Regions from separate parts of the Homo sapiens genome. Here region 1 is linked to region 2. Evidence: fine-mapped expression QTL. A gene starts in region 2. The other region holds a variant in brackets. All regions are shown on one strand. Distances are from middle to middle.

Region 1 (5,351 bases), 210 kb after region 2:
CTGCCCGGCCGCCCATTATCTGAGATGTGCAGAGCGCCTCTGCCCCGCCGCCCCGCCCCGTCTGGGATGTGAGGAGCGCCTCTGCCCGGCCACAACCCCGTCTGGGAGGTGAGGAGCGTCTCTGCCCAGCCGCCCCGTCTGAGAAGTGAGGAGACCCTCTGCCTGGCAACCGCCCCGTCTGAGAAGTGAGGAGCCCCTCCGCCCGGCAGCCACCCCATCTGGGAAGTGAGGAGCGTCTCTGCCCGGCAGCCACCCCGTCCGGGAGGGAGGTGGGGGTCAGCCCCCGCCAGGCCAGCCGCCCCGTCTGGGAGGGAGGTGGGGGGGGGTCAGCCCCCCGCCCGGCCAGCCTCCCTGTCCGGGAGGGAGGTGGGGGGTGTCAGCCCCCCGCCCGGCCAGCCGCCCCGTCCGGGAGGGAGTTGGGGGGGTCAGCCCCCCGCCCGGCCGGCCGCCCCGTCCGGGAGGGAGGTGGGGGGGTCAGCCCCCCGCCCGGCCAGCTGCCTCGTCCGGGAGGTGAGGGGCGCCTCTGCCCGGCCGCCCCTACTGGGAAATGAGGAGCCCCTCTGCCCGGCCAGCCGCCCCATCCGGGAGGGAGGTGGGGGGGTCAGCCCCCCGCCCGGCCAGCCGCCCCGTCCAGGAGGGAGGTGGGGGGTCAGCCCCCCGCCTGGCCAGCCGCCTCGTCCGGGAGGTGAGGGGCGCCTCTGCCCGGCCGCCCCTACTGGGAAATGAGGAGCCCCTCTGCCCGGCCAGCCGCCCCATCCGGGAGGGAGGTGGGGGGGTCAGCCCCCCGCCCGGCCAGCCGCCCCGTCCAGGAGGGAGGTGGGGGGTCAGCCCCCCGCCTGGCCAGCCGCCTCGTCCGGGAGGTGAGGGGCGCCTCTGCCCGGCCGCCCCTACTGGGAAATGAGGAGCCCCTCTGCCCGGCCAGCCGCCCCATCCGGGAGGGAGGTGGGGGGGTCAGCCCCCCGCCCGGCCAGCCGCCCCGTCCGGGAGGGAGGTGGGGGTCAGCCCCCCGCCCGGCCAGTCGCCTCGTCCGGGAGGTGAGGGGCGCCTCTGCCTGGCCACCCCTACTGGGAAGTGAGGAGCCCCTCTGCCCGGCCACCACCCCGTCTGGGAGGTGTACCCAACAGCTCATTGAGAACGGGCCATGATGACAATGGCGGTTTTGTGGAATAGAAAGGGGGGAAAGGTGGGGAAAAGATTGAGAAATCGGATGGTTGCCGTGTCTGTGCAGAAAGAAGTAGACATGGGAGACTTTTCATTTTGTTATGTACTAAGAAAAATTCTTCTGCCTTGGGATCCTGTTGATCTGTGACCTTACCCCCAACCCTGTGCTCTCTGAAACAGGTGCTGTGTCCACTCAGGATTAAATGGGTCGGTGCAAGATGTGCTTTGTTAAACAGATGCTTGAAGGCAGCATGCTCGTTAAGAGTCATCACCACTCCCTAATCTCAAGTACCCAGGGACACAAACACTGCGGAAGGCCGCAGGGTCCTCTGCCTAGGAAAACCAGAGACCTTTGTTCACTTGTTTATCTGCTGACCTTCCCTCCACTATTGTCCTATGACCCTGCTAAATCCCCCTCTGCGAGAAACACCCAAGAATGATCAATAAAAAAAAAAAAAAGAATTTAAAAAAAAATATATTTTTTCCTCTCCCTCTCCCTCTCCCCACGGTCTCCCTCTCCCTCTCCCCACAGTCTCCCTCTCCCTCTCTTTCCACGGTCTTCCTCTGATGCCGAGCCAAGGCTGGACTGTGCTGCCGCCGTCTCGGCTCACTGCGGCCTTCCTGCCTGGTTCTCCTGCCTCAGCCTGCCGAGTGCCTGCGATTGCGGGCCGCACCGCCACCCCTGACTGGTTTTCGTATTTTTTTGGTGGAGACGGGTTTTCGCTGTGTTGGCCGGGCTGGTCTCCAGCTCCTGACCGCAAGTGATCCGCCAGCCTCGGCCTCCCGAGGTGCCGGGATTGCAGACGGAGTGCTCAGTGCTCAGTGGTGCCCAGGCTGGAGTGCAGTGGCGTGATCTCGGCTCGCTACAGCCTCCACCTCCCAGCCGCCTGCCTTGGCCTCCCAAAGTGCCGAGATTGCAGCCTCTGCCTGGCCGCCACCCCGTCTGGGAGGTGGGGAGCGTCTCTGCCTGGCCACCCATCGTCTGGGATGTGAGGAGCCCCTCTGCCTGGCTGCCCAGTCTCGAAAGTGGGGAGCGTCTCTGCCCGGCCGCCATCCCATCTAGGAAGTGAGGAGCGGCTCTGCCCTCCCGCCCATCGTCTGAGCTGTGGGGAGCGCCTCTGCCCTGCTGCCCCGTCTGGGATGTGAGGAGCGCCTCTGCCCGGCCGCGACCCCGTCTGGGAGGTGAGGAGTGTCTCTGCCCAGCCGCCCCGTCTGGGAAGTGAGGAGCCCCTCCGCCCGGCAGCCGCCCCGTCTGAGAAGTGAGGAGCCCCTCCGCCGGGCAGCCACCCCATCTGGGAAGTGAGGAGCGTCTCCGCCCGGCAGCCACCCCGTCCGGGAGGGTGGTGGGGGTCAGCCCCCGCCCGGCTGGCCGCCCCGTCCGGGAGGGAGGTGGGGGGGTCAGCCCCCCGACCCGGCCGGCCGCCCCGTCTGGGAGGGAGGTGGGGGGGTCAGCCCCCCGCCCGGCCGGCCACCCCATCCGGGAGGTGAGGGGCGCCTCTGCCCGGCCGCCCCTACTGGGAAGTGAGGAGCCCCTCTGCCCGGCCGCCACCCCGTCTGGGAGGTGTGCCCAGCGGCTCATTGGGAACGGGCCATGATGACAATGGTGGTTTTGTGGAGTAGAGGAGGGGGAAGGGTGGGGAGAAGATTGAGAAGTCGGATGGTTGCTGTGTCTGTGTGGAGGGGGGTGGACATGGGAGACTTTTC[A/G]CTTTGTTCTGTGGTAGGAAAGGTTCTTCTGCCTTGGGATCCTGTTGATCTATGACCTTGCCCCCAGCCCTGTGCTCTCTGGAACATGTGCTGTGTCCACTCAGGGTTGGGTGGATTGAGGGCGGTGCAGGATGTGCTTTGTTGGGCAGATGCTTGAGGGCAGCATGCTCGTTGACAGTCATCACCACTCCCTAGTCTCGGGTGCCCAGGGACACAGACACTGCGGAGAGCCGCAGGGTCCTCTGCCTGGGAAGACCAGAGACCTTTGTTCACTTGTTTGTCTGCTGACCTTCCCTTCACTGTTGTCCTATGACCCTGCGGAATCCCCCTTTGCGAGAAACACCCAAGAGTGATCAATGGAAAAAAAAAAAAAAACAAAGAAAAAAGGAACAGAAGCAAATGTGGCAACATCTTGATAACTGTTGGAACTGGACGTTGGGTACATGGGGTTCATTAAACTCTTTTCTCTAAAAAAAAAAAAAAAAAATATTTTTTTAGGCTGGGCGTGGTGGCTCATGCCTATAATCTCAGCACTTTGGGAGGCTGAGGTGGGCGGATCATGAGGTCAGGAGATCGAGACCATCCTGGCTACCATGATGAAACCCCATCGCTACTAAAAAAAAATGAAAAAATTAGCCGGGCATGGTGGCAGGCGCCTGTAGTCCCAGCTACTCGGGAGGCTGAGGCAGGAGAATGGCATGAACCTGGGAGGAGGAGCTTGCCATGAGCCGAGATCGCGCCACTGCACTCCAGCCTGGGCGACAGTGCGAGACTCCATCTCAAAATATATACACATATATATTTATTTATTTATTTATTTATTTTAGTCTTACATGTCAAAAGAATTAACAGGATTGTAGCAGGTGTTTAGTAAGTAGAGGTTAAACCATTCTATTTCAGGAACTAGCATTTAGGAAGCATAGCACTTACTGTGCAACAAGAGCCCTCTGGCCATCCCTGTTTTACAGGTCTTAGAGAATGGAGGGCAGCTAGGAAGGAGCCAAATGGGACTCCTCTCAGATCTGCTGGAAGGCAGAGCCCTGCTCCCCGGCACAGACCACACTGCCTTCCTCCCTGGAGTGTGCAGTTGGAAGCACCAGATGCTCTAGCAGCATCCAGAGAGATGCCATCTGTGAGGGAAACCTATTCTTAGAGAGCAGAGACAGTCGGTAGCGGAGTTGGCCAACCCCCAGCAGCAGTGGCGGGACTTCAGGAGGGCAGGCGGCCAAGGTTTCACCTTCAGCTGGGGGCAGGACAGGCTAAAAGCAGGGTGTGCTCAGTCCTCAGGGGCACACTTCCTCTACATTTGGATGCTCTTAGAAATAACAGCATTTATTGGGGACTCACTTTAACTGTGTCATATTCTTTAACCCTCCACACCACTCGATGAGGTGTGTGCTACGACAACGCCTACTTTATCAATGAGGAAATAGAGGCACAGAATGGCTCAGTCACTTGCCCAAGGAAACTGTGGGGCCAGGGCTTGAGCCCAGGCACTCTGGCTCCAAAGCCTATGTCCCTGACCACCATGCTATATTGCCTCTCAACCTGCTGTACAGAGGCCAGTTTTAGTTTGGGTTCCCCCAATAGCAGACTCTAAGACAAGGGTTTGAGTGCAAGTGGTTCATATGGGAAGTGGTCCCAGGAAGCACTGGTAGGGGCATGAGGAAGGGAGATGGGGAGGGTGTTTGAGGCTCAGCCCTGCTGGGCGGCCCTGGGAGTCAGTGTGGAGCACGCACCTCTGAGTTATCCCACCCGAGGGGTGAGGGATGCGGGCTGTGGGAGTGGGGGTATTTATCAGTCATTGGTTGAAGGTTGCTCCAAGGATGTGTTCATTCTCCAGCCCTTCAGGCCTGCCAGAGGCTGGCAAAGGAGGCACCAGTGACAAGCTAGAGTCCTCAGGCAGAAAGACAGAGGGGCGGCCACTGGCAAAGCTGGCTAGTGTGCACCAGAGTCGTTATTTAGAGGAGCTATAGGCAGGGCACCCCCACCATCTGCTATAAAACCTGCCTGGTGATGGCCCAAGCCCTCTGCCCTCCCCAACCCCTAGAGCAGCAGTCCCCAACCTTTTTGGCACCAGGGACCAGTTTTGGGGAAGATAATTTTTCCACGGACCACTGGGGAGGGGACGTGGTTTCAGGATGATTCAAGCACATTGCATTTACTGTGGATTTTATTTCTATTATTATTACCTTGTAATATATAATGAAATAATTGTACAACACACCATAATGTAGAATCAGTGGGAGCCCTGAGTTTGTTTTCCAGCAACTAGACAGTCCCATCAAGGCGTGACGGGAGACAGTGACAGATCATCAGGCATTAGATTCTCATAAGGAGCATGCAACCTAGATCCCTTGCATGCGCAGTTCACAATAGGGTTTGCATTCCTACGAGCATCTAATGCCACCACTGATCTGACAGAAGGCAGAGCTCAGGTGGTAATGTGAGCAGTGGGGAGTGGCTGTACATACAGATGAAGCTTC
Region 2 (5,321 bases):
GCTGGAGTGCAGTGGTCGGATCACAGCTCACTGCAGCCTTGACCTCCTGGGCTCAAGCCAATCCTCCTGCCTCAGCCTCCTGAGTAGCTGGGACTACAGGCGTGCACCACCATGCCTTGCTAATTTTTTTATTTTTTGTAGAAAGGAGGTCTCACTTTATTGCCCAGTCTTGAAAATTATTTTTTGATAGGAGCATTGGAGAGATTTTCACAAAGGAAGTGAAATTTCAGCTGGGCTGTTAACCCCATCTGAATTCCTCATAGCCTTTTAGTTGTGGTTTAGAGACCCTTCCTGGGACTCTCTGAGTACATTGGTACCTTTTATTGTGTTTTCCAAAAACGTTCTAGGGAGGGCTTTCTTCATCAGTGCTCATGGCACTTTAAAGAGTATATATATACATGCATGTTCTTTTCTTTTTTTTGAGATGAAGTTTCGCTCTTGTTGCCCAGGCTGAAGTGCAATGGCGCAATCTCGGCTCACTGCAACCTCTGCCTCCCGGGTTTAAGTGATTCTCCTGCCTCAGCCTCCTGAGTAGCTGGTGTTACAGGCATGTGCCCAGCAAATTGTGTATTTTTACTAGAGACAGGGTTCCTCCATGTTGGTCAGGCTGGTCTCGAACTCCCAACCTCAGGTGATCTGTCTGCCTCAGTCTCCCAAAGTGCTGGGATTACAGGCATGAGCCACCATGCCTGGCCACATATGTTCTTTTCTTCTCTCTCTTTTTTTTTTTTTTGTTTTGTTTTGAGACAGAGTCTTGCTTTGTGGCCCAGGCTGGAGTGCAGTGGCATGATCTTGGCTCACTGCAACTGCCACCTCCCAAGTTCAAGCCATCCTCCTGCCTCAGCCTCCTGAGTAGCTGAGACTACAGGCACACGCCACCACTCCTGGCTAACTTTTGTATTTTTAGTAGAGACAGGTTTTCACCATGTTGGCCAGGCTGGTCTCGAACTCCTGACCTTTTGTGATCTGCCCACTTCAGCCTCCCAAAGTGCTAGGATTACAGGTGTGAACCACTATACCCAGCTGGTATATGCACATATGTTCTTATTTCTACATTTTTTTTTCTTTTTTTGAGACAGGGTCTCACTCTGTTACTCACGCCTGATCTGTTAGATCAGGCCAGAGTACATTGGTCTGATCTGGGGTAACTGAAACCTCTGACTCCCTGGCTCATATGATCCTCCCACCGCAGCCTTCTGTGTAGCTGAGACTACAAGCGTGTGTGCAACACCATGTCTGGCTAATTTTTGTATTTTTTGTACAGGCGCGGTTTCCCCGTGTTACCCAGGCTAGTCTTGAACTCCTGGACTCAAGCGATCCACCTGCCTTGGCCTCCCAAAGTGCCGGGATTAGAGGCATAAACCACTGTACCCGGCCGGCCTACATTCTGTCTTTTAAAATTTGTTTTCAATACACAAGTAAAATACAAATGCATTCTATATTCTTGGTGTGAGATATCTGAAATAATACTGAGAAACAAGAGTCTTTATTCTTTTCTTTTCTTTTCAGACGGAGCTTCCCTCTGTTGCCCAGGCTAGAGTGTAGTGGCGCGATTTCGGTTCACTGCAACCTCTGCCTCCCAGGTTCAAGCGACTCTCCTGCCTCAGCCTCCCGAGTAGCTGGGATTATGGACACCCGCCACCGCGCCCAGCTAATTTTTTTGTTTTGTTTTGTTTTGTTTTTTGAGAGGGAGTCTCGCTCTGTCACCCAGGTGGGAGTGCAGTGTCGTGATCTTGGCTCGGTGCAACCTCCGCCTCCGGGGTTCAAGCAATTCTCCTGTCTCAGCCTCCTGATTAGCTGGGATTACAGGCTTGTGAAACCAAGTCCAGCTAATTTTTGTATTTTTAGTACAGACGGGGTTTCACCACGTTGGTCAGGCTGGTCTCCAAATCCTGAGCTGTGATCTGCCAGCTTCGGCGTCCCAAAGTGCTGGGATTACAGGGGTGAGCCACAGCTCCTGGCCTTGTTTTGTTTTTTTGATACGGAGTTTTGCTCTTTTTGCTCAGGCTGGAGTGCAATGGCTCCGATCTCGGCTCACTGCAACCTCCCCCTCCCGGATTCAAGTGATTCTCCTGCCCCAGCCTCCCGAGTAGCTGGGACTAAAGGCACGCGCCACCGCACCAGGCTAATTTTTGTATTTTTATTTATTTATTTTTTTAGTAGAGATAGGGTTTCACCTTATAGGCCAGACTGGTCTTCAAACTCCTGACCTCGTGATCCTCCCGCCTCGGCCTCCCAAAGTGCTAGGATTACAGGCTTGAGCCACTGCGCCCGGCTCTAAGTTTTGTATTTTTAGTAGAGACAGCGTTTCGCCACATTGGCCAGACTAGCCTCGAAGTTCTGACCTCAGGTAATCCACCCTCCTCGGCCTCCCAAAGTGTTAGGATTATAGGCCTGAGCCACCGTGCCTGGTCTATTTTTTATTTTTATTTATTTATTTTTTTAATAGAGACGCTAGTCTCAAACTCCTGAGCTCAAGTGACTCTCCTTTGGCCTCCCAAAGTACTAGGATTACAGGCGTGGGCCACCACGCCCGGCCAACAGTTATTAAAATTACGATGATGAAATTTTAGGCATTTAGAATACTTCAGGCCAAAAACACTTTGAGCCAGGGGGCTCGCTCAAAGGCATGCGCAAAAGCCATCAGGCCTGTACCTGGAGAACTCAGGTGAGACGTTGCCACTCGTTGTAATCCCTCCCCCTAGCACTCGGCCCCCGAGCCTGGGCCACTGCCCTGGCTACACCGGGAAGTCTGGAGCTAGAAAGTGGGCCGTGCGCGTGACGGGCGCGCGTGACGCCGAGGGGGCAGGTCTGAGAAGCAGGCTGCGCCGGGATTCGGCGGTCGGTTCCCGCGGAAGGGGCGGGTCAGGTTAGGGGGCGGTGCTTAATGGGAGCTGGTCTTGGGGCCGGGCTTCCGCGTGCGTTGGCCTGGCGGCGAGAGCGCGCGGCGGGGGCGTGCCCGGCGGGCGGGGCGGGGCCAGCCGGGGGCGGGGCGGGGCGCGGCCTAACGGCGGCGGCGGCGGCGGCGACGGCGACAGCAGCGGTGGTGGTGTCTGGTTAGCTCGGCGGCTGCAGATCTCGCGGCGACGCCTGCGAGGGACCCGGGCCGCGGGTCGAGGCGGGCGGCGCCTGCGAGGGACCCGTGTCGCGGGTAGAGGCGGGCGGCGCGCGGCGGCGGCGCTCGGCGATGGTAGGCGTCCCTGGAGCGGCCGCCTTCCAGCGTAAGTGGGGCGTGAATGCGGGCGGCCGAGGGGGGCGTGTGAGGGCCTGCGGCTCCGCAGGCGCGGTGATTCCGAGTGCCCCGGGCGCGAGGCCGGGAGTGGAAACTGAGGCCCGAAGCGGGGCGGCGGATCCAAGGTCACGCAGCGGGGCGGGCCTTCCCGGGCTCCTGAGGCCACCCCGTCGCTTCCTGCGCCGCCCGAAGAGCTCGGGGCTCACGGTGTGAGGGAAATTGTGGGGCCCGCGGCCTCGGAACTTAGGCCGGGCCGGCGTCCATGGGACTTGCCGGCGGGCAAGAATCATTTTGTTGTCCCAGCGCTGGGGCCACGAAGTCCGGCTCCTGGGGAAATACTACACCCGCCCGATGTTGAGGGTTGGAGGAGATGAGAATGGCCCCTCGGAGGGCCTGTTTGAGCGCAGGCTCAGTAGTTGGCTACCTGGGTTCACATCCAGGCTTCCCCATTTAGGTAGTGACCTTGGCTCTCCCGGTGCCTCAGTTCCCCCATCTGCAAAATGGGGATGTGGAGCGGGTTCCCTCCCTCCCCCAGGGTTCTTGGGTTTTGTGAGGCCAGTAAAACGCTTGACACCGACCGTGGCACACACACAATTGTGAAAACTGTCATTATTGTAATCGTCCTTTATTAATCTGATCCAGTGTGCACCGCACTCGGAAAAGTCCGAAATTAGGCTCTAGCCGTGTTAAGATTTTGTTTTGTTGTCTGTTAGTCCTGCTCCATGATCTAATTGTTATTCTTACTTCCATTTAGCCATTCCAGTATTTATCTAGTGTTCCTCCTTGATGTGTGAGATCCTTGGGGGAGGGGTGGCTTCTCTGAATAAGAACAATAAAATTTTAATTGTTTTTCATTATTGTAATTATAATAGCCAACATTTTTTTGAGCACCAGACATTTTGCATTCTATTCACTTAATATTTATTAAATCATATAGTAAGTTTAAAAATACCATTCCAGGCCCTGGGAATACAATAAACAAGATAGACCGAACTGGGGTTTTGAGTTTAGTTAGGAGAGGGAGAGACATAGTAAATGAGGAAACAGATAAACATGTTTTGCATGTTTTTTTAATTGTTTAATCTTGATGACATCCTAAGTAAGACATTATTTGAGGATGCCCATTTTGCAGAGGATGAAACTGAGTAACAGAAGGTACTCTGAGTACTAGTCTCAGAGCTGATGTCCTTAAACACGTGAAAGGGAGGCTTTACGCTTCTTTTTTTTTGCACCCATTAAATGTTGGATTGAAGATAGAAAAAGTAGATACACCCAGCTTGCAGTTACTGCTTTTGATGGTTTGATCCATTCCTCATGAAATTTCCAACTAAAGAGGCGGATAGTGATTACTCTTTTAGGCTTGCAAAGGTACAGCATCTCTGTAAAATGAAAGGCTTTTTTTTTTTTGAGACGGAATCTTGCTCTGTCGCCCAGACTGGAGTGCAGGGGTGTGATCTTGGCTCACTGCAACCTCCGTCTCCTGGGTTCAAGCTATTCTCCTGTCTCAGCCTCCGGAGTAGCTGGGACTACAGGCATATGCCACCACGCTCGGCCAATTATTTTATTTTATTTTATTATTTTTTTTGAGACGGAGTTTTGTTCTTGTTGCCCAGGCTGGAGTGCAGTAGTACAATATCGGCTCACTGCAACCTCCCCCCGCCCCAGGTTCAAGCGATTCTCCTGCATCAGCCTCCAGAGTAGCTGCGATTACAGGCGCCTGCCACCACACCTGACTAATTTTTTGCATTTTTAGTAGAGACGGTTTTACCATGTTGGCCAGGCTGGTCGTGAACTCCTGAACTCAGGGGATCCATCTGCCTCAGCCTCTCAAAGTGCTGGGATTAGAGGCATGAGCCACTGCGCCCGGCCTTAATTTTTATATTTTTAGTAGAGACAGGGTTTCACCATATTGGTCAGGCTGGTCTCGAACCCCTGACCTCAGGTAATTCACCCACCTCAGCCTCCCAAAGTGCTGGGATTACGAGCGTGAGTCACCAAGCCTGACCAGAAAGGACTTTTTATTTGAAAAAATTGGGGGGCTCTTCTGCCTATGAAGTAGTCTTCCTTTGTTTCTTTACTTCCATAATAA

Which allele goes with the higher level. Alleles are on the strand shown, and positions count from the first base shown. SD is a standard deviation of normalised expression in the study named.
For the expression in skeletal muscle of the gene that starts at base 3,016 in region 2, G is the low allele of the variant in region 1 and A is the other (small effect, 0.18 SD a copy in GTEx).

Evidence for each region. PIP is the estimated chance that this variant, and not a neighbour inherited with it, causes the effect. A credible set is the group of variants that fine-mapping cannot tell apart.
Region 1: its variant is the best candidate, but not a certain one, in a credible set for the expression of CBFA2T2 in skeletal muscle (GTEx, PIP 0.83).

The regions. Positions count from the first base shown.
Region 1 is chr20:33,699,092-33,704,442 of GRCh38, forward strand. It overlaps PXMP4 (peroxisomal membrane protein 4), which reads right to left. Exons shown (of 4, transcript NM_007238.5): 4 at 3,667-5,351. Among named protein-coding and RNA genes, the nearest start is that of E2F1, 15 kb to the left of the region's middle. RefSeq lists enhancers at 775-1,485, 1,486-2,197. The variant A/G (reference allele first, on the strand shown) is at 2,866.
Region 2 is chr20:33,487,081-33,492,401 of GRCh38, forward strand. It overlaps CBFA2T2 (CBFA2/RUNX1 partner transcriptional co-repressor 2), which reads left to right and starts at 3,016. Exons shown (of 11, transcript NM_001032999.3): 1 at 3,016-3,221. The coding sequence starts at 3,188. RefSeq lists an enhancer at 2,183-2,731 and silencers at 2,826-3,045, 3,056-3,335.